Homo sapiens: one gene and its partners. The protein of the gene in region 7 purifies or fractionates together with the protein of the main gene of each other region. This does not show direct contact. Each region holds a gene or a part of one and is shown on either strand. Other genes may lie near its edges.

Region 1 (4,047 bases), on a different chromosome or scaffold from region 7:
AGTCCCATTCTTTTGCATTTTACTTACCACTTAGGGCATGCAGCAAACATCTTACTGTGCCAGACACTGTGCTGACATTGGGAATCCAGTGGTGAAGAAAGCAAATGTGAGCCCTACCCTCTTGGAGCTTATAGTCTAGAGCCTTAGAAATCAATTTTTAAGGTTAATTTACTTTATATTTTTAATTAAAAAGGAGTATGTGTGCCTTGCACAAAGATACAAATATTTTCTAAATGTATAAAATAAAAATTGAAAGTTACCCCCCATTCTTAACTCCCGCTAGTTCATTTAAAAAACAAAACCAAAAACTTAATCCCCCTCAACAAGAAAACTATCAGTTGTCTTCATAACTATATTAAAATTTTAAATTTCTTCAACATAATTAAATTTTTTGACCAGGCATGGTGGCTCACGTCTGTAATCCAAGCACTTTGGGAGGCCGAGGCGGGGGGATCAATTGAGGCCAGGAGTTCAAGACCAACCTGGCCAACATAGTGAAACCCCATCTCTACTAAAAATACACAGATTAGCCAGGCATGGTGGCAGGCACCTGTAGTCCCAGCTACTTGGGAGGCTGAGGCACGAGAATCACTTGAACCTGAGAGGCAGAGGTTGCAGTGAGCCGAGATTGTGCCACTGCACTCCAGCCTGGGTGCCAGAGCGAGACTCCATCTCAAAAAAAAAAAAAAATTACTGTAATCATAATGGTCACCCAAAACAATTCATTTTAATTAAATCACTGGTCTGAAGTTTAAGATACTGTGATGAAATATTGATTACTCTTTCTTAGAATGCTGAAGCTGCATCTCACCCTTCTCCAGCCAAGTGTACATGCACATACTCTTCCTCACTGCAGTCTCTATACCTCTCACTCTCACACAAATGGAAGAAGAATGTGGGTTTCATGTATATGCAATTGTTTATTTACCTGTTTGACTTTGTAATGTGTTTTAATTCTGCAGAAGAACCCTGTCGTAGTTTTGTAGGCTTTTCATAAATCCCTAGGCAAAGAAGGAAAGCTTCTGACCTTTTTTTCCCTTTCATAGGAAGACATACTGGGAAGAAAATGTTAGTGTTTTAGTATACTGTATTCATGACTTGACTTTGATGTGGAAGTCGATACTGATCAAGAGCTTAAGGATTGTATAAATCATTAAAGCTGTGGTCTTGCCACATGGAGGTTGATGGAAAATATTTTTGTCCTGAGTTTTATTTGCTGACTTTTTCTGTTACATGATGGGTGAAGTTGTTGAACAAACTAATATGAGGGCTTTAGCAAATCATTTTGCAGTTCAGAGCTTTCAGTTAAGTTATAATGTAAATTTTAAAATGCTGTTAAAAATCTGAAAAGGTGAAGCTCTATTATAAAATTGGTAGGCCAGATTTCAGAGTTTACAAAAACATTTCATACTTGGAATCACTCACTGGCCAAATTGGGTAGAGTGTTAAGGAAAAGAAATAACAGGTAAATAGAAATCAATATTATTTTCAATCATGTAAAGTTGTGAGGATTTGATGAATAACATATAAATTGCTTAATACAGTGCTCAATAAAATATACTGTCTCCCTTCTCCCCTTTACCCTTCTACTGTTAACTACTTTTATCACTAGGGAGAAACTAATTAGTTTAAAACAAAACATTAGATCTAGCAAATAGTAGAGGAACTTAGCCAGATGGTTAAGAGCTTGGGCATGTAAATCAGATATGGGTTTAAGTCCTGGTCTTGTCACTTACGTGTGTTCTTGGGAAAGTTGCTTAACTTCTTTGAGCCTCAGTTACCTTATTAGTAAAATTAGATGATAGTAGTGTCTACTTGATAGTGTTGTTTTAAGGATTATATGATATAATGAATGTAAAATGATTCCCACCATATCTATCACATAGTGTTTAGTAAATGTTACCTATTCATAGTAGAAGCACTTTAATAGGATTGATGTAAGGATTAAAATAATCCATATAAAATATTTAGTGGAGTACACAAGGTAAATTCTTGAGAAATATTAGCTACTACTATTAATATTAATGTATCTTAAAGCAATAATAAAATATTAAAAACTGAAGAGTAAGACCAGCTTATTGTATAAATATCTTGTTGGGGCAGGAGTAAAGGTATTAAAGATTATATAAAAGGAATGAAATCATAGCAATCACTACTTCTAAAACTTATAGAAGTCAGAATTTGCCTTTAATGATTTAATAAAAATTCCATGTACTTTTCTTTTGCTGAAGTTACAGTTGAGGAGGTATGTGAGATTGATTGATATATACATTCTTGTAACAAACTTTTGCAGATGTTCATTGAGCAAAACAAGCTAAAGAGACAAAGCCACCTTCTGCTGCAGAGCTCCATCCCTGATCAGCAGCTTTTGAAAGCTTTAGACGAAAATGCAAAACTCACCCAGCAACTTGAAGAAGAGAGAATTCAGCATCAACAAAAGGTAACCCATTTTCTTCTGGAATCTTAGGTACACACACACATACATGCATACACACATATATTTAAGATGAAGGGAGCCAGTGCAGTCAGTCCAGTCATTTACTGTTTCATATTTTGCCTTAGTTACTAAGTGCTTTCAACCACCTTTTAGAAAAAAATAACTAAATGAACTTAATGTTGTGAAACTGAAATTTGTAATACGCTATTATAGACTTTATAATAATCTTTAAACTGTCCAAAGGGTCGGAAGAAGCAAGGGAAAGAGGTATAACTTAAAAACAGCTTGGATAAGGCAAAGTCTGGAAATTCAATTTTTGGAAATGTTATATTTTTTGGAGACTGCACACACTAAGAGGCTGTATTCAACTCAGAGCACTTGTTGGAGGGCATAGGTTTTATTCAAAGAAAATGACAGTCCGTATTAGTAGTAATTGTTTGCTTAGAGAAAATTTTTGATTTTGTAAACTTGCACAAATGTGTATGTTTAAAGACTTCCTAAGTGATTATTTCAATTTGATGAGTGGAGCTATTCCAGCTGACACAGCCTACCTCTGTGTGCCAAGAAGAAAGGATAGTCATTGTGGTAGGTGAGAGGAGAAGCAAAGAAGTGGAACAAAGACTTCCAAATTAAAGAGACCACTTAAGAAAAATTACATCAATGTTTATACTACTTATAATGTACCTCATTTGGGAAGGAAAGGCTGTTAGCTGCTACTTGTTACCACCTGTCAAAGCCTCTGTGGCAACAGTATTGACATTTAATCCTTGGAAGTTCTGAAGTTTTTACAAACTTGGTGGTGAGGTTGAGTTGATTTGTTTTGCCTCAATAAGAAATGTTGATATATGGTGGCTGGTAAGATGGCCGAATACGAACAGCTCCGGTCTGCAGCTCCGAGCGGGATCAACGCAGAAGGCGGGTGATTTCTGCATTGGGTACCCGGCTCATCTCACTGGAACTGGTTGGACAGTGAGTGCAGCCCATGAAGGGTGAGCTGAAGCAAGGTGGGGTGTTGCCTCACCCGGGAAGTGCAGGGGATTGGAGAACTCCCTCTCCTAGCCAAGGGAAGCCACGAGAGACTGTGCTGTGAGGAATGGTGCTCTCCAGCCCAGATACTACGCTTTTCCCACCATCTTTGCAACCCACAGACCAGGAGATTGCCTTGGGTGCCTACACCACCAGGGCCCTGGGATTCAAGCACAAAACTGGGTGGCCATTTGGGCAGACACCAAACTAGCTGCAGGAGTGTTTCTTCATACTCCAGTGGCACCTGGAACTCCAACAACACAGAACCATTCACTCCCCTGGAAAGGGGGCAGAAGCCAGGGAGCCAAGTGGTCTAGCCCAGCAGATCCCACCCCCACGGAGCCCAGCAAGCCAAGATCCACTGGCTTGAAATTGTCGCTGCCAGCACAGCAGTCTGAGGTCAACCTGGGACACTCGAGCTTGGTGGGGGGCAGGGTGTCTGCTATTACTGAGGCTTGAGTAGGCAGTTTTCCCCTCACAGTGTAAACAAAGCCACCAGGAAGTTCGGACTGGGCCGAGCCCACTGCAGCTCCGCCAAGCTGCTGTAGCTAGACTGCCTCTCTAGATTCCTCCTCTCTGGGCAA
Region 2 (4,047 bases), on a different chromosome or scaffold from region 7:
TGTAGCACTTGGCAGCTCTCAGAGGCAGCCTTGGTGGTTTCACTGCTTCATAGTTCAGTGCCCCCAGGGTGAGTGCAGCATCAGGGATGGACCTGCCCACGTGAAACCAGAGAGGCTGGTCTTTGGCAGTGGCTGTGAATTGTTGCCACCAGCCGTGTGTAGACAAAAGTCAAGTTGGAGTAAGTGGGGAGAGGTCTGTATAATGCAATGCAAGTTTTTATGACTTGAATTAGTTAAATCTGCAGCCCAAAATTTCATGAAAATAAATATTTAAAACATTTTATTAAAAATTAAATTGACAAAGTCATATTAGAAATTAGTATTTCAATTTTCCCAACTCTAAGTATACTGGAATAAATTGCCTTAAAGTGAAAGAGTGAGAGTGTATTTAGTAAGTCTTGGTTAAGCCTTTTTGGTTTACATTCAGAAACAAGAAAAGAATGACTGATGTAAAATGTCATGACCTGCAAGTTAGGTCGTTTCCAATTCTGCTTTCTTCAACATTGAGTTGTTGGCCAGGTGCGGTGGCTCATGCCTGTAATCCCAGCACTTTGGGAGGCCGAGGTGGGCGGATCACTTGAGGTCAGGAGTTCAAGACCAGCCTGGCCAACGTGGTGAAACCCTCTCTCTACTAAAAAATACAAAAATTAGCCGGGTGTGGTGGCAGCACCTGTAATCCCAGCTTCTCGGGGGGCTGAAGCAGAATTGCTTGAACCCAGGAGGTGGAGGTTGCAGTGAGACAATACCGTGCCACTGCACTTTAGCCTGGGCAACAGAGTGAGACTCCATCTCAAAATAAATAAATAAATAAATAAACAAAATTGAGTTAAGTGACAGATGATTGAAAATACTTTTTTTTTTTTTTTTGAGACAGGGTCTTGCTCTGTCACCCAGGCTGGAGTGCTGTAGCACAATCTTGGCTCACTGCAACCTCCATCTTCTACGCTTAAGTGATCCTCCCACCTCAGCCTCCCGAGTAGCTGGGACTACAGGCATGCACTACCAGACCCAGCTAATTTTTGTATTTTTAGTAGAGATGGGGTTTTGCCATGTTGCCCAGGCTTGAAAATACTTTTTGATAATAGCTCACTATTTGATTTTTGGGATGTAACTCTGAAGACAATCAAAGAACTGAATGACATTGTAGAACATAATTCATTCCCATTTACATATATCTGTGGACAAGATTTCTCATATATGTAAAAATTAAGAGGAATAGAATTGATCCCAAGCCTTGGCCCTTTCTGGCAGTATTTAATATTCACCCTTGGATAAATGAATTAATAGGAAAAAAATAGATATAGATAGGTAGATAGATAACATTTAATACTTTGTAATCACAGGAAATTAAAAAGAATCAACTTCAACTGATTGGAATTATTTCTGATTTTTAATATATTCTATCAATACATTTAACAGAAGAAGAGTTTTTTAAAGTGATTATATTGTTTCCAGAAATTAAAATTATATCATATGCAACTATTTGACTTATGAAAAATAATAGATGTTAACTTTAAAATAAATGAGAGGTATCTAGTATCTAGTTTTTTCAAATGTTCATTAGCCAAGTGTAGTGGCATGTGCCTGTAGTCCCTGCTACTCAAGAGGTTGAAGTGGGAGAATCACTTAAGCCCAGGAGTTCAAAGCTGCAGTCAGCTAGGGTGGTGCCAGTGTACGCCACCCTGGGTGACAGAGCGAGACCTTGTCTCTAAATAAATAAATACAGATGTTCACAGCAATGTATGAAAGCCATTGCATTATATGAAACTCGTAGTGCCCAGAAAACCAAAAACAAAAATTAGTTCCTCCCACTCCTACGTGCATCTGTTCATATGGACATACAAACCTGTGTAATTTTTACAGCTGGGAAAAAAATGCTTCTGCTAGTGAAATAATCCATTTTAAAATGAGATAAAATGAAAAATAGGATTTTAAATTTAAGAGCCAATCTTTCAGATTCAATTTTTTTTAGGTAAAGTAAGATATACATAAGCCTGTCTGGCAAAAATGCACCATTATGGGGCTGGCCCGGTGGCTCACACCTGTAATCCCAGCACTTTGGGAGGCCGAAGTGGGTGGATCACGAAGTCAGGAGATTGAGACCATCCTGGCTAACATGGTGAAACCCCATCTCTACTAAAAAATACAAAAAATTAGCCAGGCGTGGTGGTGGGTGCCTGTAGTCACAGCTACTTGGGAGGCTGAGGCAGGAGAATGGTGTGAACCCGGGAGGCGGAGCTTGCAGTGAGCCGAGATCGCACCACTGCACCTCCAGCCTGGGTGGCAGAGCAAGACTCCGTCTCAAAAAAAAAAAGCACCATTATGCAGAAAACAGACTAGGTCTCTTTCTTGTTACTTGAACTCTGCATAAAATACAGAAGTCTTTCAGACATATTAAGCTCCTTTTCTCAACTGGCCTGGAAACAATTTGAGGGCAGGAATTACTTCCTGTGCTTAGTATTTAATTATAGGGGCAGAATAAATAATTGGTTCTGCAAACATTTTGCAACAGTAATTCTGGATGATGAATGAGGGGCTCCATTAACATGAAAAAGTGTCAAGTTTTAAAAATAAAATACTTGGGCCGGGCGCCGTGGCTCACGCCTGTAATCCCAGCACTTTGGGAGGCCGAGGCGGGCGGATCACAAGGTCAGGAGTTCGAGACTATCCTGGCTAACACGGTGAAACCCCGTCTCTACTAAAAATACAAAAATATTAGCCAGGAGTGGTGGCAGGCGCCTGTAGTCCCGGCTACACGGGAGGCTGAGGCAGGAGAATGGCGTGAACCCAGGAGGCGGAGCTTGCAATGAGCCGAGATTGCGCCACTGCACTCCAGCCTGGGCGACAGAGTGAGACTGCGTCTCCAAAAAAAAGAAAGAAAGAAAAGAAAATACTTATACATAGTACAGTATAAGATTCAGAAAGCCCAAAGGAGAGAACTTTTTTTTTTTTTTTGAGCTGTAGTCCCATTCTGACGCCCAAGCTGGAGTGCAGTGGCACCATCTCAGCACACTAGAACCTCCACCTCCCAGGTCCCAGGTTCAAGCAATTCTCCTGCCTCAGCCTCCCAAGTAGCTGGGACTACAGGCTCCCCACCACCACGCCCGGCTGATTTTTGTATTTTCAGTAGAGATGGGGTTTCCTCATGTTGCCCAGGCTGGTCTCTAACTCCTGACTTCAAGTGATCCACCCGCCTCGGCCTCCCAAAGTGCTGGGATTACAGGCATGAGCCACGGCGCCCGGCCAGTAACTTATTTTTTTAATGTATACCTTTTGTTCCCTTTGAATTCTACCATGTGCAAGAATTACCTCTTTAACATGGAACAACCAGGTCAAAATGTATATACATCTTTAAAATTGACCAGTAGCTACTTTGACTTGCCTAAAAACGTACCAGTGCATCTGCTCAGCTGCACCGTTGGTGGGTGCCTGTTTCCCCGGCCCCTCCCTTTGGCTAACAGCACATCATGGAATCACTTCACACCCTCCTTGTCGGTGACCAAGCATGGTGATGGCGCAGCCCTTTCCTGTTTAAACGGCACGGGACTCTCTTTGTTGCAGGCCAGACGGGTGCAGGGAACAACTGGGCGAAAGGGCACTACACGGAGGGCGCGGAGCTGGTGGACGCAGTGCTGGACGTGGTGCGGAAGGAGTGCGAGCACTGCGACTGCCTGCAGGGCTTCCAGCTCACGCACTCGCTGGGCGGCGGCACGGGCTCAGGCATGGGCACGCTGCTCATCAGCAAGATCCGTGAGGAGTTCCCGGACCGCATCATGAACACCTTCAGCGTCATGCCCTCGCCCAAGGTGTCGGACACGGTGGTGGAGCCCTACAATGCCACACTGTCGGTGCACCAGCTGGTGGAGAATACAGACGAGACCTACTGCATCGACAACGAGGCGCTCTATGACATCTGCTTCCGCACTCTGAAGCTGACAACGCCCACCTACGGGGACCTCAACCACCTGGTGTCCGCCACCATGAGTGGGGTCACCACCTCGCTGCGCTTCCCGGGCCAGCTCAATGCTGACCTGCGCAAGCTGGCGG
Region 3 (4,047 bases), on a different chromosome or scaffold from region 7:
TGCCACTAAGGAGCTCACTCACTGAACAGGTTGTGATACATTGGTATTGAGATGAGATAATAAATGTTCAGCCTAAGCCTAACAGTGGGGGTGGGAAGGTAGCCTGGGGTGGGTAGGAGCATCTTCTCTTTCTCTCTCCTTAGACGCTTTTCATTATCAAATCAGTTAGCTTTAATGTGAACGTGTTCGTTTTTGTGCTAGTGTGCACCACCAGAACAGGAGGAAAAAGGGCAAAAGTGAGCCAAGTTCATAAACTACCACAGCAAATACAGCTCAAAAAAATTAACTACTGTTCCATAACATTATAACAGGTTTCAGGCTTTTTAGAAACACTGATTATGCATCTATGTTAAAAAGTTAGTAGTGCTTTTCTGATACCTTAATATATTTTGCCCTGAAATTATATTAATTTTCTAGTGCCCTCTGGATTTGACAGTTGAATGGTTTGGCTCAAGGTGTCACAAAGTCTGATCCCTACCTCTAATTTAGTAAAACTTTTTTTGTGTCTCCTAGGCCAGAAAATCATACTTTAAGTTCTATAAATACTTTTATGATTTTTTTTTTTTTTAAGACAGGATCTCACTGTGTCATCCAGGCTGGAGTGCAGTGATGTGATCACGGCTCACTGCAGTTTCAACCTCCTGGGCTCAAGTGGATCCTCCCACCTCAGCCTCCTGAGCACCTGGGACAACAGGCTTGCACCACCCTGCCTGGCTAATTTTTGTGGGTTTTTTGGTAGAGACAGTGTCTCACCATGTTGCCAAGGCTGGTCTCCAACTCCTGGGCTCAAGCAGTCCTCCCACTTTGGCCTCCCAAAGTGCTGGGATTACAGGCGTGAACCACCACACCCAGTGAGGATAATTATTTTTATTGCCTGTAAGTTTAATATTCTAAGTAGAACAATACTTTTTTTCACTTTTTTCCTCCTTTTAAAAATTGAGATATAATTTAGTGAAACTGTATATCAGTTCTCATGTGTAGAATGCAGTGAGTTTGACAATTGTATACACCTGCATAGTTCACGTTTCTATCAAGATAGAGAACATTTCCATCATGTCAGAAACTCCATTTGTGTGCTTTATCAGTCATTCCTTTCCCAACCCTGCCAGTCTCTGGTTAACCACTCTTCTGATTCCTGTCCCATAGGTGGTTTTTTCCTGTTCCAGACATTCATATAAACATAATCATACAGTAGTATTCATGTTTAAAACATAAATATTTTCTATTCATTTATATATCAGTCTAAGTGTTTTCATAGCTAATTTGAAAATTTGTAAGAATATCTCATAACAGTAACATACTGCAGTGCTAGTCTTATTATTTAGAGAAATGTAAGCCACTGACTCTACTTTAAGGAAACAACCTATAAGAGTGCAGATTGCCTTCAGCTAACTGTGGTACTACTCTTATTAGGTGTTTGTATGCTATTTTGATAAATATCTTTCCAAAATTTTCAAGAAGCCAGCGAAACAGATTGAAGAAATGTCTTCTACATATATGGTTTGGCTTTAATAGCTCATCAGAAACAGGATAGTGTTATATTTGAATCTTTTAAAATAAAGTTCAGATAGTTCAACAATGACTAAAAAAAAAAAATGGCCAAAAAATGTGAAAAGACTCAGCCTCATTAATAATGATGAAAAGTACAGGCTGGGCGTGGTGGCTCATGCCTGTAATCCTAGCACTTTGGGAGGCTGAGGCGGGCGGATCATGAGGTCAGGAATTCGAGACCAGCCTGACCAACATGATGGAACCCCATCTCTACTAAAAATACAAAAATTAACTGGACGTGGTGGTGTGCGCCTGTAATCCCAGCTACTTGGGAGGCTGCGGCAGGAGAATCGCTTGAACCTGGGAGATGGAGGTTATAGTGAGCTGAGATCAGGCCTCTGCACTCCAGCCTGGGTGACAGAGCAAGACTCTGTCTCAAAAAAAAAAAAAAAAATACTAACTAAAACATTATGTCTCATCTATCAGATCAGAATATTGATCTGATGTTGACAAGGAGAGGATGTTGGAACTCATATACTAATATTGAGAATTTAAATTGTTATGTCACTTCATGGGATGCAGATACCAAATTTTTATGTGACCATTTCTTTAGATAGGGCTATCAATAGACTCTTCTACAAGGATAGGAATGTTCTACATCCTGCACCATGCAGTATGGTAGCTGCTGACTACATCAGGCTATTGAGCACTTGAAATGTGGCTATTACGGCTGAGGAACTGAATTTTATTGTAATTAATTTAAATAGTCATACGGGATGGCTCACACCTATAATCCCAGCACTCTGGGAGGCTGAGGCAGGCAGATCACCTAAGGTCAGGAGTTCGACCCGAGACCAGCCTGGCCAACATAGTGAAACCCCATCTCTACCAAAAATTAAAAAATTAGCCAGGCCTGGTGGCGGGCTCCTGTAATCGCAACTACTCAGGAGGATGAGGCAGGAGAATTGCTTGAACCCAGGAGGTCGAGGTTGCAGTGAGCCGAGATTGGGCCATTGCACTCCAGCCTGGGAGACAAGAGCAAAACTCCGTCTCAGAAAATAAATAAATAGTCACATGGGCCAGGCATAGTGGCTCATTCCTATAATCCCAGCACTTGGGAGGCTGAGGCTGGAGGATCACTTGAGCCCAGGAGTTTGAGACCAGCCTGGGCAACATAGTGAGACCCTGTCTTTCCAAAAAAAAAAAAATTTTTTTTTAATTAAAATTTTTTAAAAAGCCTTTAAAAATAAAAATAATCACGTGTGGCACAAGCCTGTAGCCCCACCACTCAGGAGGCTGAGGTGGGAGGATCCCTGGAGCCTGGGAAGTCAAGGCTGCAGTGAGCCATGATCACGCCACTGCACCCCAGCCTGTGCAACAGAGTGAGACCTTGTCTCAAAATGAATAAATAAATAATTTTAAAATCGTCACATGTGGCTAGTAAGTACCATATTGGACATGACAGCATTAACGCTGATTCTCTTGTAGCCATTTATTTCAAGGAAATTATTAGAAATATACACAAATGTATATACATAGATGTGTTGCAGCATCATTCATAATTTTGGAAAGCTAGACAATGTTAAACAGGGTATTTGTAGTATAGTAAATTTATTTGGTCTTTGTCCCTGGTTCCTGTTACAGAGCCACTAGAACCCTTGGAATTTTCTGATAGTGTAGTGTATTTTTTTGTTATTCTTAATGTACCCCTTTTGATAACACCTGAGTTCATCCTAATGAGATAACTTTTAGGATCTGGCCTATCTATAGCCTAAGGAAGGATGGGGCCAGTCACCAAAAAGACTAAGTGATTAGAGTTTTAGAGGGTTGGAACTTTTGGCACCACCTACCAAAATCCAGGAAAGGAGGAGGGCAAGTGCTGGAGATTAAGCTCCATTAAAGCTTTTTTCTTCTTGTGTTTTGAGCCAAGTCTCGCTCTGTTGCCCAGGCTGGAGTGCAGAGGTGCGATCATAGTTCACTGGAGGCTTCAACCTCCTGGGCTCAAGCAATCCTCCTACATCAATGTCCCAAGTGGCTGGGACCACAGGCGCCTTCCACCACACCTTGCTAAATTTTTTTGTGTTTGAAATGAAGTCTTACTATGTTGCCCAGGCTGGTCTCGAACTCCTGGACTCAAGCAATATTCCCATCTCAGCTTCCCACAGTGCTAGGATTACAGGTGTGAGCTGCTGCGCCTGGCCTATAAAAACTCTTGAACTAGAAATCTGATGAGCTTCCAGGTTGATGAGCACATGGAAGTGTTAAGAGGGTAGCACCCAGAGAGGGCGTGGCAGCTCTGCACCCCTTCTCCCTCTACCTTTCCCTGTGTGTCTCTTCACCTGGCTGTTCTATATCATTCATAATGTCCTTTGTAATAAACTACTAAGTGTAAGTAAAGTGTTTCCCAGAGTTCTGTGAGCCATTCTAGCAAATTATTGAACCCACAGAGAGGGTGGTAAGAACCCTGTGCTAACCATTCAGTCGGAATCATAGGTCACAACCTGGGACTTGTGATTAGTGTCTGAAGTGGGGCCAGGCTTATGAGACTAAACTCTT
Region 4 (4,047 bases), on a different chromosome or scaffold from region 7:
GTTATAGACTGCAGGCCTGGCTCAGGGCTCCCCAGTTTCCCCCTGCACTGGGGCAAGGAGGCTATGTGACAGTTTCATAAAGTGTGTAAATTCCTGGACCACTGTGACAGGACATAGCTGTCCCATTGTCACTGAGATCCCCGTGTCCCTCAGAGACCCCTCATTCCCTGTTCCTTGGCAACCTCTAACCTGTTCTCTACCTCTATAGTTTTGTCATTAAAGGACCCTTTGAAAGTACTTATTCCAGCCTGCGCAACATGGTAAAACCCCATCTCTACAAAAAGGAAGAAAAAAAAATAGCCAGGCGTATTGGTGCACACCGTAGTCCTAGCTACTCAGGAGGCTGAGTTGGGAGGATCACTTAAGCCCAGGAGGTTGAGGCAGCAGTGAGCTGTGACTGCGCCACTGCACTCCAGCTTAGGAGACAAAGTGAGACCCTGTCTCAAAAAAAAAAAAAGATATTTATTTGCCAAATAAAGTTACTGAACTTGTGAACTTCGGCCGGGTGTGGTGGCTCAAGCCTGTAATCCGAGCACTTTGGGAGGCCGAGGCAGGCCGATCATGAGGTCAGGAGATCCAGACCATCCTGGCTAACACGGTGAAACCCCATCTCTACTAAAAATACAAAAAAATTATCTGGGCGTGGTGGCGGGCGCCTGTAGTCCCAGCTACTCGGGAGGCTGAGGCAGGAGAATGGTGCGAACCTGGGAGGCGGAGCTTGCAATGAGCCGAGATCGCGCCACTGCACTCCAGCCTGGGCGACAGAGCGAGACTCTGTCTCAAAAGAAAAAAAAAAAAGTTACTGAACTGGCTAATCTGGAGCAATGGGCCATTCTATGGGTGTCAATGGCCATAACTCTTCACCTCCACTTTCCATTTGGACAGCCAGATGAACAAGACCCCAGGTTAAGCCTCGTTGGCTTCTTTGAATTCCTAGCTTGGTTATGTGAGAAATAACTAATGTGTTAAAAGAAACAATAGTTTTAAGAATAAAGAATCCTTGGGTTTTTGTTTTTGGGGTTTTTTTTGAGACAGGGTCTTGCTCTGTCACCCAGGCTGTATAGTGGTGCAATCACGTGGTGCAACACGGCTAACTGCAGCCTTGACCTCCTGGGCTGAGGTGATCCCCCCACCTCAGCCTCCCAAGTAGCTGGGACTACAGATGTGCGCCACCACTCCCAGCTAACAATCCTTGCTGAAGATAACCATGTGGTATCTGTGTTGAAGTCAAAATAAAATGTAGAGACGAATCTCTAAATTCAACGTTTTATTTGGGAAGAAAAAATTGCAGTTCAAGCAGACTGGGTGGTCTTCGATCTGTCCAAAGAACAAGAGAAAGTTGGGGCCAGCCTCGGTGGCTCATGCGTATAATCCCCAGCACTTTGGGAGGCTGAGGCAGAAGGATTGTTTGGGCCTAGCAGTTCGGGACCAGCCTGGGCAACACAGTGAGACCACATCTCTACAAAAAATTTTTGGCTGGTGGCTTACGCCTGTAATCACAGCACTTTGGGAGGCCGAGGAGGGTGGATCACCTGAGGTCAAGAGATCGAGACCAGCCTGGCCAACATGGTGAAACCCCATCTCTACTAAAAATACAAAAAATTAGCCGGGTATGGTGGCAGGTGCCTGTAATCCCAGCTACTCGAGAGGCTGAGGCGAGATAATTGCTTGAACCTGGAAGACGGAGGTTGCAGTGAGCCGGGATCACGCCACTGCACTCTAGCCTGGGCGACAGAGCGAGACTCCATCTCAAAATAACAATAATAATAATAATAAACCATCAACCTCATTTTGATGGTAATTGATGTGTGTGCATGCATGCATGTGTGTGTACACAGTTCCTGTCTCATAACTCCCACAGCCCTGTTATAATGTTGGGGCACTCTAGGCCTCAGGAGCAGGCCTTGGAAAACAGAATTTCCATCACTGACCTTCTCCTCTCCTTTCACCTGTTCCTTTCTCTCTTCAAGGGAGGAATCTTTCCTGCCTGTTTTGGAGCTGTCCATAAATAAATTATCTACTTGCTTTTCTTTTCTTTTTTTTTGGAGGCGGAGTCTCGCTCTGTCGCCCAGGCTGGAGTCAGTGGCGTGATCTCAGCTCACTGCAAGCTCCACCTTCCGGGTTCACGCCATTCTTCTGCCTCAGCCTCCAGAGTAGCTGGGACTACAGGCGCCCGCCACCACGCCCACCTAATTTTTTGTATTTTTTTTTTTTTTTTAGTAGAGATGGGGTTTCACCGTGTTAGCCAGGATGGTCTGGATCTCCTGACCTCGTGATCTGCCCGCCTCGGCCTCCTAAAGTGCTGGGATTACAGGCACCAGCCACCGCGCCCGGCCGTCTACTTGCTTTTCTAATTGTGGGTCCTAAGACCCTCATTTCAAAAGGGGTCCCATCACATACCCTGGAGGAAGGAATGTTGCACGGAGGACGGTAAGAAGGTGAACACAGAGGCGTTGCTGGGTTTCCTCACTCATTAGATGATAATATTTCAACAGGGCTGTCCATACTTCAGTCATGTCTCTCCAGTAGAGTCTCCATAAAAGGCCCAAGAGGACAGGGTTCAGGGAGCTTCCAAATACCTGAACACATGGAGCCTCCTGAAGGGTGGTGCACCCAGGGTGGGCATGGAGGCACCGTGCCCCTTCTCACATGCCTTGCCCTATGCATCTCTTCCTCTGTGTCCTTTGTATAATAAGCCAGTACATGTAAGTGAGTGTTTCCCTTACTTCTGTGATCTGCTCCAGCAAATTAATGGAACACAAAGGTTAATTCAAGTTGACAACCCCAAGTTGAAGCCAGTGGATCAGAAGTTCTGGAGCCCAGACTTGTGACGGGTGGGAATGGAGAATGGTTGGTTGGGACTAAGCCTTCAACCTGTGGGATCTGAGGCTGTCTCCAGGTAGACAGGGTTGGAATTGAATTGGAGGATGCCCAGCTGGTATCCACTGAAGAATTAATTGCTTGTTTGGTGCGTGGGGAGAAACCCCCACACATCGGTCACAGAAGTCCTCTCTGTTGATTATTCTGGTATGAGAGCAGAGGAATGCAGTTCAGGTTGTTTCTTCAGAGGCCGGGCGCAGTGGCTCACGTCTGTAATCCCAGCAATTTGGGAGGCCAAGGTGGGTGGATCACCTGAGGTCAGGAGTTCGAGACCAGCCCGGCCAACATGGCAAAACCCCGTCTCTACTAAAAATACAAAAAAAAAAGGCCGGGTGTGGTGGCTCACACCTGTAACCCCAGCACTTTGGGAGGCTGAGGCGGGCGGATCATGAGGTCAGGAGATCGAGACCATCCTGGCTAACACGGTGAAACCCCATCTCTACTAAAAATACAAAAAACTAGCCGGCCGCAGTGGCGGGCGCCTGTAGTCCCAGCTACTCGGGAGGCTGAGGCAGGAGAATGGCGTGAACCCGGGAGGCAGAGCTTGCAGTGAGCCGAGATGGCGCCACTGCAGTCCGGCGTGGGTGAAAGAGCGAGACTCCGTCTCAAAAAAATAAAAATACAAATACAAAAAAAAAAACACAAAAAACCATAGCCTGGCGTGGTGGCTCGTGCCTGTAATCCCAGCTACTCATGGGGCTGAGGCAGGAGAATTACTTGAACCTGGGAGTTGGAGGTTGCAGTGAGCTGAGCTTGCGCCACTGCACTCCAGCCTGGGCAACAGTGCAAGACTCCGTCTCGGAAAAAAATAAAAAATAAATACAAGTACAAAAATTAGCCAGGCATCATGGTGTGAGCCTGTAGTCCCAGCTACTGAGGACGCTGAGGTAGGAGAATCACTTGAACCCTGGAGGAGGAGGTTGCAGTGAGGCGAGATCATTTTACTGCACTCCAGCCTGGATGACAGAGTGAGACTCTGTGTCAGAAAAAAAAAAAAAGCTACTCAGTGGCTACAAGTTTGGACGTTTTGAACTGTTTAGTTGGTTACTCTGAAGAAAAAAACTTTTTTATTTTTTTTTGCAACAGAGTCTTGCTCCATTGCCCAGGCTGTAGTGCAGTGGCACAATCTCGGCTCACTGCAACCTCCACCTCCCGGGTCCAAGTGAT
Region 5 (4,047 bases), on a different chromosome or scaffold from region 7:
GTCCCTGAAGTGGCCAAGGTATATGAGAGAAATGGGCTGCTAAGGCAGGCAAATGGATATTTTAAAACAAAGCCTAATGGGGCAGTACTTGGCAAATAGAAGCGATTTTTTTTTTGTTTTTGACCACAGTAGTGATAAGTAGCTCTCATCAGCCCTAGGGGAAGCCCTGCAGCTCAGTTGCAAGCCTTTAAAAGTTGCTAGTCTCTGCTGTGGGGGAAGATAGTACAAGGCTGAGGCCTTTTAAACTGGAAATTCTGAAATAGGATTGCCTTCTAGATTGAGATCTGGAAATAATCTGCATGTAGGAATGTGCCCACCAAAAGGGTGATATTCCACATGCTGCCCCTCAGCGCCTCCCTTTCCCTCACGCCTCATCCTGCAGTGACTGAGGCAGGACCTTTCCCTTGTGCGAGAGGCAGCCTAAATCAGAGCTCTACTCATTTCCTGCTTGATACCGCAGAGCGTTTGAGGTCATGCATATTTAAATATAAAATTGATACCATATTTCAGATGAATTATTTTGAAGGGAAAATACATTTGAAAGATAAATTTTGTTGGGAATGTTAAAAATAGCCATTTTTTAAAAACATGGGAGGCATAATACAAAATAGCCTTGTGTTTATAGCCCATCTTTCCACCCATGTCTTGCAGTTTTTATTATAGGGCTATAAAGGAAATTCTCTTATGTTCTTTGTTTTTTGGAACAAGCTGGCTGTCAAATACAAAATACCCCTTCATGTCGACGCTTGTCTGGGAGGCTTCCTCATCGTCTTTATGGAGAAAGCAGGATACCCACTGGAGCACCCATTTGATTTCCGGGTGAAAGGTGTAACCAGCATTTCAGCTGACACCCATAAGGTGAGCTAAGGAGGAGATCAAGTGTTACCAGTTGATTATTTTGACTATTATTGATAAAATAAATTGGTAGCTTCCCCGCAAAGTATAAAATTAACTATAGAATTCTCATCAGATGCTTGTTTTAAACTCTCTCTTTGCCGTCACCAGATCAGCTGGTTCAGGTGATGGGGTATAGTGGTAGAGGTGACAAGCAGTAGTGAAAATGAACCTGTTACCTTTATCTCAAATTGGCTAAGAGAATTTCTGTATCCACTGACTGTGTGTAACTAGAACATGCTAGTGTAGTGGCCCTTGTTAAAAAAGCTCCCTGAAGCCTTGAGCTGATTTGAGGTGGAGGGTAGAGGAGTGTGAGGGTTGGTAGTGGAGTTCCCATGCTGGTAGATAACATTAGAGCTGCTGTGCAACTGGGCTCCTGAGCGTACATGACGGGAAAATGTTGACGGAAGAGTCCTTTGGAAAATGGGAAGAACCTGTGTGCTCAGGAACATTCAGCATTTGAGATGGCCACGCCTGCCACCCTTGGTGGACTGAGACAAAGTCTAGATCAGTTGATAACGCTATTGAATATACATCCAGATGTGGAAGAAGTATTAGCAGCCTCAGGAATGTGTACCTTGTTTTGATTGCATTTTCAGAGCTTGTTTTAAACTCAAGTATATTAAAGACTTGTTTTTCAAAATCGGTGTGATCTGCAGCCGATTTTCAGTCAGCATCTGTTTTTTCCTTACCATCCAGATAGCTCCTGTGTCCTTTTCCCATAACCATCCATTTCTGGATGGTTCAGGTAATGAAATTAGTTCCACGTTAGTTTTAATAAGAGTTAATTAGGGGGTCAGATGTTCTATAAGGAAACCAGTTACATAGTTAATTTTAAAGCTGGATTAAGTAGCTTTTAGTTTCTGAGCACCATTATGTTCTCATAAGCATAATATTCTTAGTAATACTAAGCAAAAAAAGATGGGAAGGGGGTCAGATGGTGATTTTAACTTGAAGTGACAAATTCCATCCTTTCCTGGCTTCCATTGCAAACTTACCCTTGCTTTCATCCTGACATATGGTCTCCAGAGAAATATTTTAAATAAGGTAAACCACATGCTGGGCAAGAGAGGGAGTAAACCGATTAACTGGGCGCTGTTCTTCCCTGGGTCTCAGATTCCTCATTCCTAACAGAGAGAATTTAAACTCCATCCCTTAAGTTCCTACTATCCTTTAGCATTTTAAGTTTGAATCCTTAATGTGAGTGGGAAACATAACAGAGAAACTGAGAAATAAATAGGATTTCCTTTGCATGATGAGAGTTCTGGGACAAGGTCTGCCAGACAGAACTATACTCTCACTTTTCTTGTCTGCTACTTCTTCCACAGTATGGCTATGCCCCAAAAGGCTCATCATTGGTGTTGTATAGTGACAAGAAGTACAGGAACTATCAGTTCTTCGTCGATACAGATTGGCAGGGTGGCATCTATGCTTCCCCAACCATCGCAGGCTCACGGCCTGGTGGCATTAGCGCAGCCTGTTGGGCTGCCTTGATGCACTTCGGTGAGAACGGCTATGTTGAAGCTACCAAACAGATCATCAAAACTGCTCGCTTCCTCAAGTCAGAGTATGTGTGGAAGACTGGGGTTCTGCCTTGTCTATTGCTTTTTTGTCCTAGTAGGCTCAAGGCACCTGCCTGGCTAAGTATCCATAGCCCTAGCCCACCTGTTGTCTCCTGCGATATAGAGGGCTTAGGGCAGCAGCTTAGGGCTTAGGCCAGACCAGCTGGCCTGGGAGAAGAAGCTCCCTTTCTCTGCCCTGACTTTTGGAGGGTCTTTGAGACGGGGGCCTCATTTGTAGTTTATCTCATCTCTATGGATGTCTTAATAACTGGCAGCTCTTACCCTAAGGCTAATGTACAATTTAATGGTTAGGACAGTGATTCCCAAACTTGAGCATGCATTCTAATCACCTGAAGGACTTGTTAAAACACAGGTAGCTGGGCCCACCCCTAGAGTTTCTGATTCAGTGGAACTGGGATGGGCTCTAAAAATTTCCATTTCTGGAGATACTGATGCTACTGCTCCAGGAATCATACTTGAAGAATCATTGGAATAAGAAAATAATTGGAAATGGGCCAGAAGGAATGAGGAAAGGAGGGCAATGAAATCTTGGGTTAAGCCAAGGCCAGAACAGGCTGCATGCTTTGTCTAATGTATCTGTTAACATCTTATCTGCCCATCTCTCTATGTGTCACTTGGATTGGGGAGGCTCTTTAAGTATATTGAGGGGGAAGGAAAGCTGCCTGCAGGCATTTCTCATTTGAGAAAGATCCTTGGCCAGGCACGGTGGCTCCGGCCTGTAATCCCAGCACTTTGGGAGGCCAAGGCAAAAGGATCGCTTCAGCTCAGGAATTAAAGACCAACCGGAGCAACATAGTGAGACATTATCTCTACAACAAATTTAAAAATTAGCCATGAGGCCGGGCGCGGTGACTCATCCCTGTAATCCCAGCACTTTGGGAGGCTGAGGCGGGTGGATCACCTGAGGTCCAGAGTTCAAGACCAGCCTGACCAACAGGGAGAACCCCGTCTCTACTAAAAATACAAAATTAGCCGGGCGTGGTGGCGCATGCCTGTAATCCCAGCTACTCAGGAGGCTGAGGCAGGAGAATTGCTTGAACCCGGGAGGCAGAGGTTGCGGTGAGTTGAGATGGCACCATTGCACTCAAGCCTGGGCAACAAGAACGAAACTCCATCTCAAAAATAAAAAATAAATAAAAATAAAAATTAGCCACATGTGGTGGTGTGCACCTTTGGTCCCAGCTACACAGGAGGCTTAAGGCAAGAGGACTGCTTGAACAGCCCAGGAATTTGAGGTTACAGTGAGCTATGATCACACCACTGCACTCTAGCCTGGGTGACAGAGCAAGACCCTGTCTCAAATAAATAAGCAAACAAATAAATAAAAATTAGATATATATAAAAGGTCCTCCTATAGCTCTGATAGGGCCATTTATTAAGACCTGCTATACCATTTCTTGCTTTAGGGATTACATATGACTTTTTAGAACTGTGGAGATGGGCAGATTACTTTTCCAGAAATTTTTTTAGTACATCTTTCATGCCTCAGAAGCATCTAGGGGAATATAATTGGGAGTTGGGTAGACAGGTTCGAAGTCAGTGATTGAGTCATTAGATCTAGATGGGGTTT
Region 6 (4,047 bases), on a different chromosome or scaffold from region 7:
ATAAAAAATAAGGCTGGGTGCGGTGGCTCACACCTGTCATCCCAGCACTTTGGGAGGACAAGGTGGGTGGATCACCTGAGATCAGTTCGAGACCAGCCTGGCCAACATGGCGAAACCCCATCTCTACTAAAAATACAAAAATTAGCCAGGTGTGGTGGTGCACACCTGTAGTCCCAGCTACTCGGGAGGCCAAGGCAGGAGAATTGCTTGAACCTGGGAGGTGGGGGTTGTAGTGAACCAAGATTGTGCCACTGCACTCCAGCCTGGGCCACGGAGCGAGACTCCATCTCAAAAATAAATAAATAAAATAAAAATTATCTATATATAATATTCATTCATAGGGTTGTTGTAAGGATTGAGTTAAATGCAGTGGTGTCTGTAGCTGGATGGGACGCTCCCCGCACAGCCACATCATAGGTGTTAGGTAAATGTCAGCCGTTCTCCTCATCATTTGGTGGAGGGTAGCAGAGGGTCCCCTACTCTTGTCCCCTGCCAGAGCTACTGTGGCCAGTGCCGGCCTGTGGGATGGGTCATGAGCAGATAGGGCTGGGGGGGTGTGGAGCCACACACAGTATGGACATCCTGGGCCAGTCACTCGCCCAAGCCTGCCTGCTCTTCTGTAAGATGGAGAGAACACCAAGGCTCTGAACCATTTATTGCCACAGTCCAAGGTGACCAACGGTCCCAGTAGCTCCGGACTGAGGGGTTTCTTGGGATGTGGGACTTTCAGGGCTAAAGCCAGACAGAATTTGGCAAGTAGAATGGCGGGTCACCCGACACGGATCCTGTTGACTACACAAAATAAAATAAAATAAAATACATTGATTTAAGGAAAGCAATTATGCTGAAGTAAAGTAATCAAAACATGTTTTAAGTTTCCTGACTTGCTATATATGTGCTTCTTTATTAACACATCAAATAACAAGATCTGGTGATCTCAGTAGCTACCACAATTTCAAAGCAGCAATATGTGTAAATGATATTTTGAAATATTTGCAGCTACTGTCATGTGATAAGCAAATACTAGTAACAAAGTTGCAGGTCCTACCACTGCTACTTTGGTTTCTTGCCTACATCTCATTGAAAGAACTGCTCAATTTCAGTGAGAAGTGAGTGAAATTGAGGTGTAATGCTTTCCCATCCAAGGTCATAGGCTCCCTGAATTCTGTTGGCAGCCCCCGTGGGTCCCCAGGGACTGCAGGCTCGGAGCCCCCTAGTCCTGCATGTTGGCGTGGAGGTGGGGGTCAGGGGAACTGACGGGGGATTTTGATGCCTGATGCAGCAGGTATGGCACCACCCTCCTCTCTCCCACAGATGCCCCTGGGCAGTACGGAGCCTATTTCCACGATGATGGCTTCCTCGCCTTCCCTGGCCATGTCTTCTCCAGGAGGTGAGACTGGCATTGGAAGGGCCCATGGGCCTAATGGGGAGGATGGGAATCTGGGACTTCTGTCCCCTCACCCGCTCTTCCTCCGCAGCCTGCCCGAGGTGCCCGAGACCATCGAGCTGGAGGTTCGGACCAGCACAGCCAGTGGCCTCCTGCTCTGGCAGGGTGTGGTGAGTGTGGGTATCCGGCTGGGCTCTTGGGGCTCCTGGGGCAGGAAGCTGGCTTCCTGGTGGCCGGAGTGGTGGGGGGAGGGGAAAGCAGAGCCCCCTGGCCTCGGCAGCCTCTGCTCTCCAGGCTGGGGACCCCAGAGACCCTGTGCTTCCCTGGCAGGAGGTGGGAGAGGCCGGCCAAGGCAAGGACTTCATCAGCCTCGGGCTTCAAGACGGGCACCTTGTCTTCAGGTAGGTCCTGGCACCTGGCCCTTCCTCTCCCTTCCCTGGTCCCAGCACCCCACCCCCCGGTCCTGCCCCAGCTCATACTTCTTGGGCCTGGATGACTGCAGGTACCAGCTGGGTAGTGGGGAGGCCCGCCTGGTCTCTGAGGACCCCATCAATGACGGCGAGTGGCACCGGGTGACAGCACTGCGGTAAGGGACCCTGCCGGGCACTCGGGATGGGGCCCAGCGTTCTGGAGTGGGGCAGGACGCCCCCTACCATGGGCAGAGAGGCAGGTATTGAGCTCTGTGGAGACAGAACTTGAAGCCAGGGGAGGGGAGAACCCACCAGCCAGGGCTCGGGCTTCCATCTCGGACTGAACTCCGCTGGGGGCAGGCGAGTGCCCCAGGAGTGGGAGGAAACCTGGGTGCAGAAATGAGGAAGCTGTGTTTGTGGGGCCCGATCTCTCGTTCAGCGGGGGAAAGAAAGAGCTTGGGAAACAGGGACAGACTTCTGAGTCTGGAGTCTCGATATCAGAGGGAGGGGACTCTGTCGTGGGGCCGGGGAGGACCAGGAAGTTTGTGGAAAGGGGCCTGACCCAGTTCCACTGCAGGGAGGGCCGCAGAGGTTCCATCCAAGTCGACGGTGAGGAGCTGGTCAGCGGCCGGTCCCCAGGTCCCAACGTGGCAGTCAACGCCAAGGGCAGCGTCTACATCGGTAAGTCTGGGGCTCCTTCTCAGGGCAGGGGCAGGAACGGCACTCCCTTAGGGCTAGAGCTCGCCCAGCCTTCCTCGCCTCCTGGGCTGCTGGAGCCCACAGGCCCTGTCCTCTCACCTCCCGGCAGGCGGAGCCCCTGACGTGGCCACGCTGACCGGGGGCAGATTCTCCTCAGGCATCACAGGCTGTGTCAAGAACCTGGTGCTGCACTCGGCCCGACCCGGCGCCCCGCCCCCACAGCCCCTGGACCTGCAGCACCGCGCCCAGGCCGGGGCCAACACACGCCCCTGCCCCTCGTAGGCACCTGCCTGCCCCACACGGACTCCCGGGCCACGCCCCAGCCCGACAATGTCGAGTATATTATTATTAATATTATTATGAATTTTTGTAAGAAACCGAGGCGATGCCACGCTTTGCTGCTACCGCCCTGGGCTGGACTGGAGGTGGGCATGCCACCCTCACACACACAGCTGGGCAAAGCCACAAGGCTGGCCAGCAAGGCAGGTTGGATGGGAGTGGGCACCTCAGAAAGTCACCAGGACTTGGGGTCAGGAACAGTGGCTGGGTGGGCCCAGAACTGCCCCCACTGTCCCCCTACCCACCGATGGAGCCCCCAGATAGAGCTGGGTGGCCTGTTTCTGCAGCCCTTGGGCAGTTCTCACTCCTAGGAGAGCCAACCTCGGCTTGTGGGCTGGTGCCCCACAGCTACCTGAGACGGGCATCGCAGGAGTCTCTGCCACCCACTCAGGATTGGGAATTGTCTTTAGTGCCGGCTGTGGAGCAAAAGGCAGCTCACCCCTGGGCAGGCGGTCCCCATCCCCACCAGCTCGTTTTTCAGCACCCCCACCCACCTCCACCCAGCCCCTGGCACCTCCTCTGGCAGACTCCCCCTCCTACCACGTCCTCCTGGCCTGCATTCCCACCCCCTCCTGCCAGCACACAGCCTGGGGTCCCTCCCTCAGGGGCTGTAAGGGAAGGCCCACCCCAACTCTTACCAGGAGCTGCTACAGGCAGAGCCCAGCACTGATAGGGCCCCGCCCACCGGGCCCCGCCCACCCCAGGCCACATCCCCACCCATCTGGAAGTGAAGGCCCAGGGACTCCTCCAACAGACAACGGACGGACGGATGCCGCTGGTGCTCAGGAAGAGCTAGTGCCTTAGGTGGGGGAAGGCAGGACTCACGACTGAGAGAGAGAGGAGGGGGATATGACCACCCTGCCCCATCTGCAGGAGCCTGAAGATCCAGCTCAAGTGCCATCCTGCCAGTGGCCCCCAGACTGTGGGGTTGGGACGCCTGGCCTCTGTGTCCTAGAAGGGACCCTCCTGTGGTCTTTGTCTTGATTTTTCTTAATAAACGGTGCTATCCCCGCCAGGGGCCTCCTGAGTCTTTGATGAGGGCTTCACTCAGTGGAGCCTGTGGATGGGGCAGAGCAGGGCAGGTGAGATCTGGGGGTGAAGCAAGCTGGCTTGGGATCAGCGAGGCCCCCAGGCCCCCAACCCTGTGAGGCAGGAATTGTCCTATTTTCTAGAGGGGCAGCTGAGTCTCAGAGGGTTAGGGGGCCTGTCCAA
Region 7 (4,047 bases):
GCTTCCCCTCCTCCAGGTGCTGCTTAGGGAAAATGTCTTCTACATAATTTACTATGGAAAGGAAAGAATTTTTTTTTTTTTTGACAGAATCTTGCTCTGTTGCCCAGGCTGGAGTGCAGTGGCGTGATCTCAGCTCGCTGCAACCTCCGCCTCCCGGGTTCAAGCAATTCTGTCTCAGCCTCCCGAGTAGCTGGGAGTACAGACGCCTGCCACCATGCCTGGCTACTTTTCGTATTTTTAGTAGAGACGGGGTTCCACCATGTTGGCCAGGCTGCTCTCAAACTCCTGACCTCAGGTGATCCACCTGCCTCGGCCTCCCAGAGTGTTGGGATTACAGGCGTGAGCCACCGCCGGAATTTTTTTCAATGTTAGAATTCTGGTGAAAATTCTGCTGGGTTTCTGCTTGGTCACACGATGCAGAGCAGCAGCTCCTCACATTGTGTCTCCCACTTTCCTCAGGGGAGTGTTCTGGGATGCACTCTCCTGGTCACCTCTAAACCCTACTGTCTTTTACCTTGGTTGAAATGTTTCTAAAATGCATGGTAGGGATGGGAGTGGGGCTGAGTCTTACCTCCCACTCGCCTGTCTTACCTCTGGGGAAGCACCAGTGGTCACTGGCCAACTGGGACACAAGAACTGGGCAGGCTGAGCGGTGAGGGTGCAGCTGGGGACCTCAAGTGCTGGCCTCCGGGGGAAGGGGCCGAGATGTCAGGCTGCACATGGCAGGTAGAGGTACAGGAGGCTGTCCTTACCTGTTTGGAGATGGGGCCAGGGCCTGCCTTGCAGCTAGAGGAGGCTTTCAGAGGAGCCCAAGACCATCACCCATTTCAGAAGTGAGAAGGTGGGAGGGGGCAGGGAAAGAGTGCTGTTCCTGAACTGTCCCACAGCCTGTAGGCCAGCAAGTTGCGATCAGGGTACAGCTTGGGGCAGGGCAGACAGTCACTCTCTGGTACCTTCTTCAAGGGTTACCTTGAAGAGCATTTTTTTAAAAAGGAATGAACACGGCCGGGTGCGGTGGCTCACACCTGTAATCCCAGCACTTTGGGAGGCCGAGGCGAGTGGATCACAAGGTCAGGAAATCGAGACCAGCCAGACCAACATGGTGAAACCCCGTCTCTACTAAAAATACAAGAATTAGCCAGGCATGGTGGCGGGTGCCTGTAGTCCCAGCTACTCAGGAGGCTGAGGCAGGAGAATCCCTTGAACCTGGGAGGCAGAGGTTGCAGTGAGCCGAAATCACGCCAGTGCACTCCAGCCTGGGTGACAGAGTGAGACTGTCTGAAAACAAAAACAAAAACAAAAACAAAAACAAAACAAAAACCATGCAAGGTTAGAAAATCATTGCTCACCCAATGAGAACAAGCTGCAAATGGAGACATCAAGATGTGTGCAAAATCCCCTCCCCAGTCCGTGATGTGAGGCTGATGGGGTACCTGGAGCCCTTCAGAACTTTGTATCACATAGTAGAGTTCTTGAAAAGGCCTCACTTTTGAAAAGACGCCTTTTTTTTTTTTTCCCCACAGAGTCTAATGACCATAGGCCCTGGGAACTTTGATTTAATTGTGCTGGATAAAACTGCCTTCAAATCGTTGCTCCGTAGCCCTGAGTGATGAACTAGAGTGGAATAAAGAACACACTGCTGTTCTCTTTAACCCTTCAGTAGAACACACTAACCCCAATTAGTGCATAGAGAAAAAGATCCCTAAACTTCCCTTCTGACTGCACAAAATATTTTTTACTTACCATGACTAACTGAATACACAAGCATACGTTTGTTTTAGCTGCAGTATGAGGTGAAGTAACTAATAAAAATACAAAACAAATAGACCATTAATCTTAGGCCACCTGTTAAAAGAATGAGAACAGGCCAGGCGCAGTGGCTCATGTCTGTAATCCCAGCACTTTGGGAGGTCGAGGCAGGTGGATCACCTGAGGTCGGGAGTTCGAGACCACCCTGACCAACATGGACAAACCCCGTCTCTACTAAAAATACAAAAATTAGCCAGGCATGGTGGCACATGCCTGTAATCCAAGCTACTCGGGAGGCTGAAGCAGGAGAATCACTTGAATCCAGGGGGCAGAAGTTGCAGTGAGCCAAGATTGTGCCATTGCACTCCAGCCTGGGCAATAAGAGCAAAACTCCATCTCAAAAATAATAATAATAATAAATAAATAAAAGAATGGGAGCATGCAAATTAAGTTTGTGGGCCTGTTTGGAAGGCTTCACTGGTCCCAGACTACCTTCTCCCAGTGGGATGGGGATGCCTGGAATCCTGGAATTCACAGAGGGGTGTGTAGTGGAGCCAGTTTTGGGAGCTTTCCTCTGGGAAAAGTGCTCAACTCAGTGGCTACATTCACCGATTCCTGAGAAAACTGTGCCATAACATCAACTTCAGAACCTCATCTGCAGAGCTGGAGTCTTAGAACAGCCAGGGAGAGTTTTCCAGGGGACTTTCTGGTGTCCTTTTCTAAGCCCTGGTGCACAGGGACTATTTTGTATTGCTTTAAAAAATTTATAACAGTGATATACTCTTAGGCTGGGTGTGGTGGCTCACGCCTGTAATCCCAGCACTTCAGGAGGCCAAGGCGGGCAGATCACCTGAGGTCAGGAGTTCGAGACCAGCCTGGCCAACATGGTGAAACCCTGTCTCTACTAAAAATACAAAAATTACCCGGGCGTAGTGGCGTGCACCTGTAATCCCAGCTACTCTGGAAGCTGAGGCGGGAGATCACTTGAACCTGGGAGGCGGAAGTTGCAGTGAGCTGAGATCGTGCCACTGCACTCCAGCCGGGGTGACAGCAAAACTCTGCCTCAAAAAACAAACAAAGAAACAAAGAAACAAACAGTAACATACTCTTAGCAAAGACTTGCAGGTGGGCAGAGTCACCAGGGTAGCCACTGTTCACTGCTTGCTTTGTATCCTAACAGACTCTTAACTGGGCATATGCAAATATACAGAGTCATATATTTAATCATGCAAATGGAACTTGAACTTTACCATACAAATTGTTCTGTGAATTCTATTTTTCCACTCCACAATATACCATGGGCATTCTGCTATGTCAGCTCAAATGCCTATTTTTATTTTTTACTTTTAAATTTTATTTTTGTTAGAGACAGGGTCTTGCTCTGTTGTGCAGGCTGGAGTGCAGCAGTGTGATGATAGCTCTCAGAAACCGCAAACTCGTAGGCTCAAGTGATCCTCCCACCTCAGCCTCCTAAGTAGCTAGGACTACAGGCAAGTGCCACCATGCCTGGCTACATTAAAAAAAAAATTTATGGCGACAGGGTCTCAATATGTTGTCCAGGCTGGTCTCAAACTCCTGGCCTCAAGCTGTCCTCCCACACTGGCCGTCCAAAGTGTTGGGATTACAGGCATGAGCCACCACACCTGGCCCTTTTTTGTTTTAAAATATATATGGTGTCCTGTAGAATGGACATACCTCGATTTATTTAATCATTTAATAGGCAGAGTTAGGAACCCTATCCTGTGTGTTTGCAGGTGGCATTTTAGAAATGAAGGCATAAGTCTTAAAAATGTCACACTGGTAGTGGGAAGAATTGAGACCACTCTATAAGCTGTGTAAGCGTTTTAGAGCCCTTGTGTTTTCAAGATTTTAGACGGTATGGGAGTTGAAACATGAGTTAATAAAGAACTGGAAGCCACGAGGGTCCTGTGTTAAGTAGAGCCACAGGGGCTAGACATCAGTGCTCTGCAGAGGGCTGGGTGGGAGGGGAGGCAGGACCTCCTATCCTGTGTTAAGTAGAGTCACAGGGGCTAGACATCAGTGCTCTGCAGAGGGCTGGGTGGGAGGGGAGGCAGGACCTCTTATCCTGTGTTAAGTAGAGCCACAGGGGCTAGACATCAGTGCTCTGCAGAGGGCTGGGTGGGAGGGGAGGCAGGACCTCCTATCTTGTGTTAAGTAGAGTCACAGGGGCTAGACATCAGTGCTCTGCAGAGGGCTGGGTGGGAGGGGAGGCAGGACCTCCTATCCCAGGGATGTCTTCAGTCTTCAGGACAGCTTGCTTGCTTCTGAGTTGTCTGC

Evidence for each region.
Region 1: the proteins of PSAT1 (region 7) and SHTN1 fractionate together in Homo sapiens (co-fractionation; one large-scale study listed by BioGRID). This does not show direct contact.
Region 2: the proteins of PSAT1 (region 7) and TUBB6 fractionate together in Homo sapiens (co-fractionation; one large-scale study listed by BioGRID). This does not show direct contact.
Region 3: the proteins of PSAT1 (region 7) and TTC1 fractionate together in Homo sapiens (co-fractionation; one large-scale study listed by BioGRID). This does not show direct contact.
Region 4: the proteins of PSAT1 (region 7) and TALDO1 fractionate together in Homo sapiens (co-fractionation; one large-scale study listed by BioGRID). This does not show direct contact.
Region 5: the proteins of PSAT1 (region 7) and SGPL1 fractionate together in Homo sapiens (co-fractionation; one large-scale study listed by BioGRID). This does not show direct contact.
Region 6: the proteins of PSAT1 (region 7) and HSPG2 fractionate together in Homo sapiens (co-fractionation; one large-scale study listed by BioGRID). This does not show direct contact.

What each region holds. Positions count from the first base shown.
Region 1 is NC_000010.11:116,938,859-116,942,905, reverse strand, and holds part of SHTN1 (shootin-1), read left to right. Parts: intron 1-2,293; coding exon 2,294-2,440; intron 2,441-4,047. UniProt on the Homo sapiens protein: Involved in the generation of internal asymmetric signals required for neuronal polarization and neurite outgrowth.
Region 2 is NC_000018.10:12,321,506-12,325,552, forward strand, and holds part of TUBB6 (tubulin beta-6 chain), read left to right. Parts: intron 1-3,303; exon of another isoform or gene 3,304-3,561; coding exon 3,562-4,047. UniProt on the Homo sapiens protein: Tubulin is the major constituent of microtubules, a cylinder consisting of laterally associated linear protofilaments composed of alpha- and beta-tubulin heterodimers.
Region 3 is NC_000005.10:160,011,815-160,015,861, forward strand, and holds part of TTC1 (tetratricopeptide repeat protein 1), read left to right. Parts: intron 1-2,844; exon of another isoform or gene 2,845-4,047.
Region 4 is NC_000011.10:750,044-754,090, forward strand, and holds part of TALDO1 (transaldolase), read left to right. Parts: intron 1-4,047. UniProt on the Homo sapiens protein: Catalyzes the rate-limiting step of the non-oxidative phase in the pentose phosphate pathway. Catalyzes the reversible conversion of sedheptulose-7-phosphate and D-glyceraldehyde 3-phosphate into erythrose-4-phosphate and beta-D-fructose 6-phosphate.
Region 5 is NC_000010.11:70,871,129-70,875,175, forward strand, and holds part of SGPL1 (sphingosine-1-phosphate lyase 1), read left to right. Parts: coding exon 1-18; intron 19-708; coding exon 709-858; intron 859-2,222; coding exon 2,223-2,461; intron 2,462-4,047. UniProt on the Homo sapiens protein: Cleaves phosphorylated sphingoid bases (PSBs), such as sphingosine-1-phosphate, into fatty aldehydes and phosphoethanolamine. Elevates stress-induced ceramide production and apoptosis.
Region 6 is NC_000001.11:21,822,047-21,826,093, reverse strand, and holds the end of HSPG2 (basement membrane-specific heparan sulfate proteoglycan core protein isoform b precursor), read left to right. Parts: intron 1-868; exon of another isoform or gene 869-1,314; coding exon 1,315-1,390; exon of another isoform or gene 1,391-1,478; coding exon 1,479-1,557; exon of another isoform or gene 1,558-1,717; coding exon 1,718-1,788; exon of another isoform or gene 1,789-1,889; coding exon 1,890-1,973; exon of another isoform or gene 1,974-2,374; coding exon 2,375-2,478; exon of another isoform or gene 2,479-2,605; coding exon 2,606-2,778; 3' UTR 2,779-3,850; downstream 3,851-4,047. Other genes in the region: LDLRAD2 (low-density lipoprotein receptor class A domain-containing protein 2 precursor), read right to left, coding at 3,879-3,892. UniProt on the Homo sapiens protein: Integral component of basement membranes. Component of the glomerular basement membrane (GBM), responsible for the fixed negative electrostatic membrane charge, and which provides a barrier which is both size- and charge-selective.
Region 7 is NC_000009.12:78,310,549-78,314,595, forward strand, and holds part of PSAT1 (phosphoserine aminotransferase), read left to right. Parts: intron 1-4,047. UniProt on the Homo sapiens protein: Involved in L-serine biosynthesis via the phosphorylated pathway, a three-step pathway converting the glycolytic intermediate 3-phospho-D-glycerate into L-serine.